Homo sapiens: one gene and its partner. The protein of the gene in region 1 interacts with the protein of each later gene in a pairwise test. Each region holds a gene or a part of one and is shown on either strand. Other genes may lie near its edges. The genes, in order: CA3 and HPCAL1.

Region 1 (3,909 bases):
AGTGGTTCAATTCATTGCATTTTTCCTGTCCAACCACTCAGAACAGTTATTATAGGGACATGTGAGTCCAATTTATTAGAAGAAACTATATGAAATTGACAATATTCAACTATTTTTGCACACAAAAATGGCATTTTCATATGGTTCAACCTAATAGATATGTTTAATTTTGTTATGTTGCTTTCAAAATGGTACTTGATATATAAGGAGAAGGGGAAAAAAGGAAACAATAGCAATACGAAACCACTGTTTAAGAAAATTTAAATTTCTGTAACTTGGAACCTCCTGGTAGGTAGGAATTATGAATATCATTCTTCATTACAAAATCATTAAGAATGTTCATTTATGTATATCAATAAATATAACTTTATTAGAGATGGGGCTATAAGGAATTATTTTGCTGTATATCAAGCACCAAAATATTAAAGGAAGATTCTTTCTTACCTCATTTATCGTGAAATAAAGTATTTCTGACTAGTCTTCTTTTATTATACTGATTTGCTTACTAGTGTAGGTGAAATAAAGAGATTTGTTTTTTCTAAACATGTATTTTTCAGTCGCTGTCTCACACACAAACTACTACTCAAGAAGAAATTGTCAGATATTTCAAAAATACTCACCCAAATGATTAATCAGATGAACCCCACTGAAGGCTTGAAGGCAAGTCATCTTGACACCTTCAGTGGCCCTGTTCTCTCCCCTAGATTGGTCACCTCCCAGGCACCAAGGGAAGAAAGTGCCTATTTAGGGTTTCTATTGTATATCTGGCTTTGTAGAATGGAATCTATGCAATTGAGAGTGGAAGCCTGGCTCTCCAGACCATGGACAAGAAGCACAAGAACCCTCAGGTATAGGCCATCGGAGTCTGAAGAATACTCATTTGAGTTTATTGTCATCTCTGTCCTATCGTGTTCCATTTCAGGAATGCATTGCCAACTTTTAGCTTGGACATGGGGCCGTTTTCACAGAGACCAAGTTTGGAGGGTGTGACATTCCTCTTCAATACATAAATATAATTATTCATGACTAAAGCAAAGTCAAATGTCATCTGCATTTTAAAAGATAAAGTGCTCCCTCTCCCCATTAATTCTGGTACTGTGTCATAAACCACATTTTGTCAATATGGACCTTGAAAACATCCATGTGATTCTACCTCATTGTCATACTTACTTGACCTATCATAAGTATCATCAAATACAACTCGGCAGGTCTTCCCATTATTCAGGATGGTCTTGGCAGAGCCACCATCATAAGACACAGACCATGGCTGCAGAGAAGGGTCATGCCTGATGTCTTTAGTATGCAGCTCAACGGGCGACTGGTTTTCCCCCTTGGCATTTGGGAAAAGTTCATGCCAGTGGTCAGGACCTAGGAAATAAAGTCGAGGAGATGTATTTATTTGGTGGCACAACCCAAGGCCTCTTTCTAATTGACTAAACCAGCAAAATACAGAGAGGCTAGACAGTGATTTCAAAAAGGTCTTAGGTTTCAGACTGGGCAATAAGAGACTTAGCATTCATTTCAGGCCTGTTGGTAGTTTTGTGAATAGCACACATGGAGACTATTTAACTCAGTGTGTTCACTCTGCCTGCTCAAAGGCTTATTTTTCAGATAAACTTTATCACATTTTTTTTTAACCAATGACACCTTCCATCATAGAGTTGGAATAAAATAATATTGACCACCTACATTTGAGCATTGTGTTGTGGGTTTCAGAGCACACCCATGTTCCTTTGCCTTGGATTAGGGAGAAGCTTAGGCAGAGCAGAGATTCTCACACCGGCACCAAGCTCAGGTTAGGTGCTTGTCCAGTAAAACAGAATAAGGGCCAGTCACACCTGACCTCGGGCTGTCTGACTTCTCAGAGGCAATGGGATCTTAGGCAAGTGATCCAACTTCTCTGCACTTCAGTTTTCTCCAAGGGAAATAAAAACTCCATACTAGGGAGAACCAAATGAGATGAAGGAAAAAAAGAAGCAGCAGCATTTGGCAGTTGAAAAGCCTCAGTAAATGTTAGGTCTTATTCTACTCCTACATTTTCCACTGCAGTCTCTAAAGTTGCCCATTTCTGTGCAATGGCAGGGCTCTCCTGGACTGGCATCCCTTCCTGGCCGGGTCGCGGCTGCCTGCACTCACCGTTGTGACTGGCGTAGCCCCACTCCTTGGCCATGGTCGCCTTCCTCCGTGCTGGACGGCTCCTGCTTTCTCTTCCCCTGCGTGGTGCAGAGTCGCCGCGAGCCCGCGCTTTTATGTAGCTCCCCCGCACACTGCATGGCCTTATTAGGTCAGCGAGGGTGGGGCGGGGGGCTAAACTAGATTGGGGTGGTGTTTGGGAGGCCGGGTAGAGGAAGCCAATGAATTCCAAGAGCGGGACAGCTGTCGAGGTGACGGGGGCGGAGGTGGGCGAAGGGGCACCCACGCCCCTCCCTGCGCTCTCCCGGGAGTCGTGGCTCCTGGCCCCTCCATCTCCTCTTCTTCTCTCTCAAAACTGCAGGGTTTCTAACCGGCGCCGACGTGCAGAAATGCAGGCGGCCCTCACCTCGTCCTCTCTCCTTCCTCCATGCATTCTTGGGGATGGGGTGGGGGCAGGGACAGGGTGTCGTAGTTGTGCTTGGCCACGAACTAAAATCTACATCCCGGCGGCTCTTGCAGCCTCACTTAAAAGTTGCTTCAAGCGCAGGCTGGCTGTCTGGCTACGATCTCTGGACACTTGTGCGAGTTTATTTCGCTCTAGCGATCCGGTTACAGAGGCTGGAAAGAACTCGTTTGTTTGCCTGCCCCCTAAGTTTGACTCCCTTTGCAGGCAACATGTAAAATCCTAGGAGCAAAGGATGGGAAGAAAGGGTCCGGAGCAGGGTGAGAGGGTGAAGAGGCCCTCCAAGTCCGTTATCCTTAAAGAGATGGCCCTTTCTGGAATCGCACCAGGCGGCATTTCCCAACCTAGCGGATCCTTTTGGCTTGCAGGAAACCGAGGGCTGGATCTCAGAGAGCGCCAGATATCCAGGAGATGTCTGGATCCCAGGTTCACGCGGAGCTGGAGACTGGGACTGATTTAGCCACACTCCCTGAGCTGTACCTCTGTTCATGAAAAATCAAGAATATTCTGAAGTATTGGAAGGCCACTAACATAAAATGAGTCATATTTCTTAAAACCTGTGGTCTTGCTCTCCAAGATACAATGAGAGATTGCAAGAAAAGAAAGAGGGAAAGATTTACAGAATGGCTTTTAATTTTTTTCTCCCCCTACTAAGTTGTTTTCTTATACATTGAACCATGCAAAGGAGAATAAAAGTGGCATATCTAGTGTGTCTACATGACAAAAGTATATTTTTAAATGTCTGGTTATGGTTCATATCAAAGAGGTCAGTAGTAGATATTTACAATTTTAAGAGTATATTGTAAAATTTCTCCTGTTTTAATTCAGTAATAATTTTTTAAGACAATGAGGAAAGATAAACCTAATTTCAGTGCTATCTTGAACAATATTTCGATATACATTTCCTTAATTAACTTTTATTGATAATAGTATTTAGTATTTGGGGATTACAAAACTCGAAAAGGAAATCGCTCGTCATGGCACAGATAGCTCATCCCTAAGGCATGTGGAATGACTGACCACACTCATAACCTGGACGCCAGGGGAGTCATTCCCCAGGGTATTTTTGTGACAAGGGATTATTTGATCCACACAATAGCAGTGTGGAATCAGGAACTAAGGCAGTTCGGAAAATCCAAGCAAACATAGTAAACAAATGCCCTTAAACTCTCAGCTCCTATCTGTCACTGTTTGATCAGAAAGACTGCAGTGGTTAATGGAGATGTTTTGTAGTTCTTATAAAATGTATAATTATTTGTATGAGTAAACCAATCCACTCAATCATTACAATATTCTTTTTCTGGTATGAGTGG
Region 2 (3,909 bases), on another chromosome or scaffold:
ACCTAAGTTTTGAAGGATGGATGGGTGACAGGTTGGAGGGGGAAGATGGAAAAGTCACATGGGAGAGGAACAGCATGGGCCAAGTGTGGAGGAACCAGTGAGTGGGCTGGGTTTCAGAAACAGGCCTTGGTCTGCTTTTGAGCCCTCCCTGAACTTTTCCACCCCAACCCCACCTCCTGCCTGTGTCTGCCATGCACCTCCCTTCCTGTGAGTCTGTGGACAGACTTTGCCCCTTTGCCCTGTGTGTGCTTGGGAGAAATCTGCTCAGTTTCTGTGGCAGGGATGTTTCTACGTGTTCATCAAACCGGCTTTGTTTACTTCCGAAACACTCATGAAGACCACAGCTGCCAGAGCCCCTTGCATCCTGGTGGGACTGTGCGACTACTTCTGGCCCATGGATGTGGGTGGAAGTGACGTGTGCTTCCCCAGGCCTGGCTCCTGGACCCCACCGACGGCTTCTCACCTGTAACCCCACCAGCCTTCTACCTGGATACTTCACGGGGAGCTAGAGTGGCCTTGGCTAAGAAGGAGGCATGGCACCCGCGGGTACCGGGCCGCCTTCATCAGTCGGTGCACTCTGGTCCACCGCCCACATGCCTTCATGTAATCTTCACTGTAGGGCCCACAGGGAGGGGAACTTCCTCGAGGTCTAGCTTTGCCTTTCCGCCTTCAGAGCCAAGTAAGAATGAGGGGTCTGGGCTCGGCCCACCTTCCCTGCAAGGCCCTGTGCCCGCTCCCCTCAAAGCTGGTCTTGCATGTTGCTCTGGCGGCCTCTGTAGCAGGAGTTCACTCTGTTTTCCGTGGAGGAGGAGTGGAAGGAGGGATTCAAGCTCTCCCCTAGAGACGCTAGAAAGACAGTTTTGTCTCAGCCTCATACGATCGCCCAGCTCCACATTTCTGGCTGTTTCTGTGGTTACCTTTCTTCGGGGATGTTTGGGGCGGGAGGTGGGTGTGTGTGTATATTTGCTCTTCTGAAGCCGTTTTTCCGGAGCTCCTGGTGGGGGTGGGGGTGCTCTGTCCCTGGTTCCTCTCGAGGCAGGTGCAGGGGATGGAGGATGCCCCCCTCCCCGAGAGCCAGGAGGCGCCGACCCTGGGCAGGAGGTGCCAGACCGGCGCCTCTCCCGCGTGGAGCTCGAAGACCACAGATGCCTGGAAGGGAGGAGCACCTTCCGTGGTTAGGTGGGGAAACCGAGGCAGAGGCGGCCCAATGGACTCGCCTAAACGGCCTGGGGAGTCACTGCAGGTAACCAGAGCTGGAGCCAGGCTTCCCACTCCAGGCCCGGGGCTCTCCCCCGAACAGGCGTGGGAAGGGGTGCGAGCTGCACGCGGGGCTGGGGCTGGGGGTGCGGGGCTGGGGCAACTCGGCTCTTCCCCTTCCTAGGCCGCCCGGGCCACTTCCTGCGGCGTGGGGGCGGGGGGCGCGGGCGCAGGGCTGGCCCCTCCCGGGCGCCGCCTCTCGGCCTCTTCTATACCAGCAGGCCAGAGGCCAAGGGTTAGGGGAACAGAACCGGTGCCCGGCTCCGCCCCTGTCCCGAAAGCCACTGGGGGCTGGGACCCGGCAGGGCCAGGTTTGGGCCGCGAGGGCCGAGGAGCAGCGAGGTGCAGGGGCTGCGAGGGCCGAGCCGGGCGCTGAGGGTCCGGCAGGGGGCGTGGAGGGGGCGGGGCCCGGAGGGGGCGGGGCCGTAGGAAACTTGAGCGCCCGCCTCTGGCCGCGCGCCCCGCCCCGGCCCCCGCCTCCGGGTCCCGCCTCCAGGTCCCGCCTTCGCGTCCCTTCCTTCCCGGAGCTGGCAGGCGGGCCGCGGCGGCGGCGGGCAGCGGACGGGCGGACTGACGGGCGCCTCCACCTTGCTCCCTCCCTGGCTGCCGGCTTCCTTTTGTCTTTCTGGGCGGCGATGAGCGCAGGGCCGGCGCAGCAGCTGCGGGCGCACGGAGGCCCGCGCTGCTAGTCACTCCTCCCGGCCTCGGCGCGCTTGTCCCGGGCAGCGGCCCGGGCCCGCTGCAGCCGCCGCCGGCGCCGAACTTGGGCTCGGGAAGCCGGCGGACCGCGTCCTGCGCCGGAGCAGGTAGGGAAGGGGCGGGCTGCGGTCTGCTGGCTGCTGAAGTGTGCCCCGGGCGTGTGCACCCGGCGTGTGCACCGGCGAGCGCTGCGATCCGGCTCTTTGCGTGTGTGTTGTGCGCGCGTGTGTGTGTCCGGGAGTGCCCGCGTTTCTCTGCGCGGTGGAGTTGTGGGTGACTGCGGACGGTGGTGTGTCTTTCGAATGGCGTGTACTCGTGGGCATCCATGTGTGCCTTAGGTGTGCACATTTTGGACTGCGTTTGTGGAATTGTGTGTCGGGGCGCAGTTGCTGGTGGGGAGCGGTGCCTGGCGGGTGTCGTGTGTGAGCAGCTGTGCGCAGAGCGGGGTGGCGGGGTGGGTGTGGGTGGTCCAGCCCCACGCCCAGAGCCCCCTGTCCCTGCTGGTCGGCGCAGTGCGTAGCTTAGGAGCCTCGAGGACAGCTGGGACCCGACGGGCAAGGGCGGGCCTCGCGGGCAGGCTGGGCAGCCCTCAGGGAACAGGTCCGTGCGGCCCACGTGGGTCGCCTGTGAGCTTCTGCCAAGGGTGGGGGCCCACGCGGAGGCGATCCGCTCGTTCCTCCCAGGGCCATGGGGCGACGAGGAGAGCCCTGGCCTCCCCGCGACCCGCACTGCGACCTGGGCCAGACGCGCCACCTTCCCCGGTCGCGGTTTGCTTCTCTTTAAAATGAGGACAGCTCCTCCCTTGGGGGCTGTGGTGACAGGTGAAATGAGAACGCACTGAAGACAGCTCTTGGTCCAAAGCCCCGCACACAGTAGGTACTGTGTTAATTGGATTAGCGTCTCCTGTTTAAAATCCTTTTTTTTTCCCCTTTATCGTGGGTGGGGCCTTACATTTTCCCCGGGCGTGTTTTGTGCCTCTCCCTGGCCCTAACTTAACCGCGAAGCACTGAGATTCGAGAAAGTTTAGCTGCCAGCTGCGCTGCCTCCTGCAGCACCTCCCGGGCGGCGCCGCCTCCGCGAGTGCCCGAGAGCGCCGCGCTGGGCGCCGGCCCTGCCCCAGCCCCCAGGCTCCCGCGCAAGCGTGGGGGTCCCTCTCCTGGCCGGGAGGCAGCGACTGCGGAGTTGAGAACCCTTTGGTTCAACAAGTTCCTAGTCCGGGAGGATGCAGCTCAGCTCGTGGAGTCCGAGAGTCACGGCGTAAAATTGGCGCTTCCCGCACATGCAGATCTCGGGCTCCCGGGGTGTCCCGGCCGCCAAAGGCCACCCCTTTCCTCCTGGCTGACCCCAATTCCACCAGAGGAGGATGTTTGCCAGGGACGCCGAGTCCAGCTGCTGGCCTCGGCATTAGACAACCCCCAGCCCCAGCCCCTGCCATCCCTGCTCCCTTGCAGCCAGCCTCATGCCGGGGGTGCCACATGGGACACCTCCTCCTAGTCCCACACCTTAATTTAAAACATTTACTTTTGAAACCTACTAGTCGTAAAATTGAACCGCAGTGAACGAGCACCCAGCTCTTACCACGACTCACTCTCTGGAGAGTTCTGGCGCCTCGGCGCTGGCTCGGACGCAGCAAGGCCAGCTCTAGGGGTCGGGTGGCTCTCGGCCAGAGCGAAGGATATTCTTTCCCTTCATCGCCTTGGTGTCTTTCTCTGGGGGAAAAAAATCGCCTTTAACCAAGGGAGCCAAGATCTCACCAGTGCAGGAGGCTCTCAAAATGGAGCGCCGGCATGGGGTTGGGCTGCGGAGGGGACAGCATGGGCGGCCTTTTGGTATGGATGCGCTTCCCAACTGTCAGGGGCTACGTGATGGTGTTCCCAGAGAGGCGGGCTGCTTTGCGGGCTTTTAGGAGCCAGGGATAGAAACCTGGTCCGGTTCCTTTGGTTTCCCTCGGCC

What was found.
Region 2: the proteins of CA3 (region 1) and HPCAL1 interact in binary tests that used the Homo sapiens proteins (3 or more experiments, as listed by UniProt).

The regions. Positions count from the first base shown.
Region 1 is NC_000008.11:85,437,171-85,441,079, reverse strand, and holds the start of CA3 (carbonic anhydrase 3), read right to left. Parts: upstream 2,222-3,909; 5' UTR 2,171-2,221; coding exon 2,137-2,170; intron 1,369-2,136; coding exon 1,171-1,368; intron 1-1,170. UniProt on the Homo sapiens protein: Reversible hydration of carbon dioxide.
Region 2 is NC_000002.12:10,301,115-10,305,023, forward strand, and holds the start of HPCAL1 (hippocalcin-like protein 1), read left to right. Parts: upstream 1-1,789; 5' UTR 1,790-2,063; intron 2,064-2,585; exon of another isoform or gene 2,586-2,828; intron 2,829-3,909. UniProt on the Homo sapiens protein: May be involved in the calcium-dependent regulation of rhodopsin phosphorylation.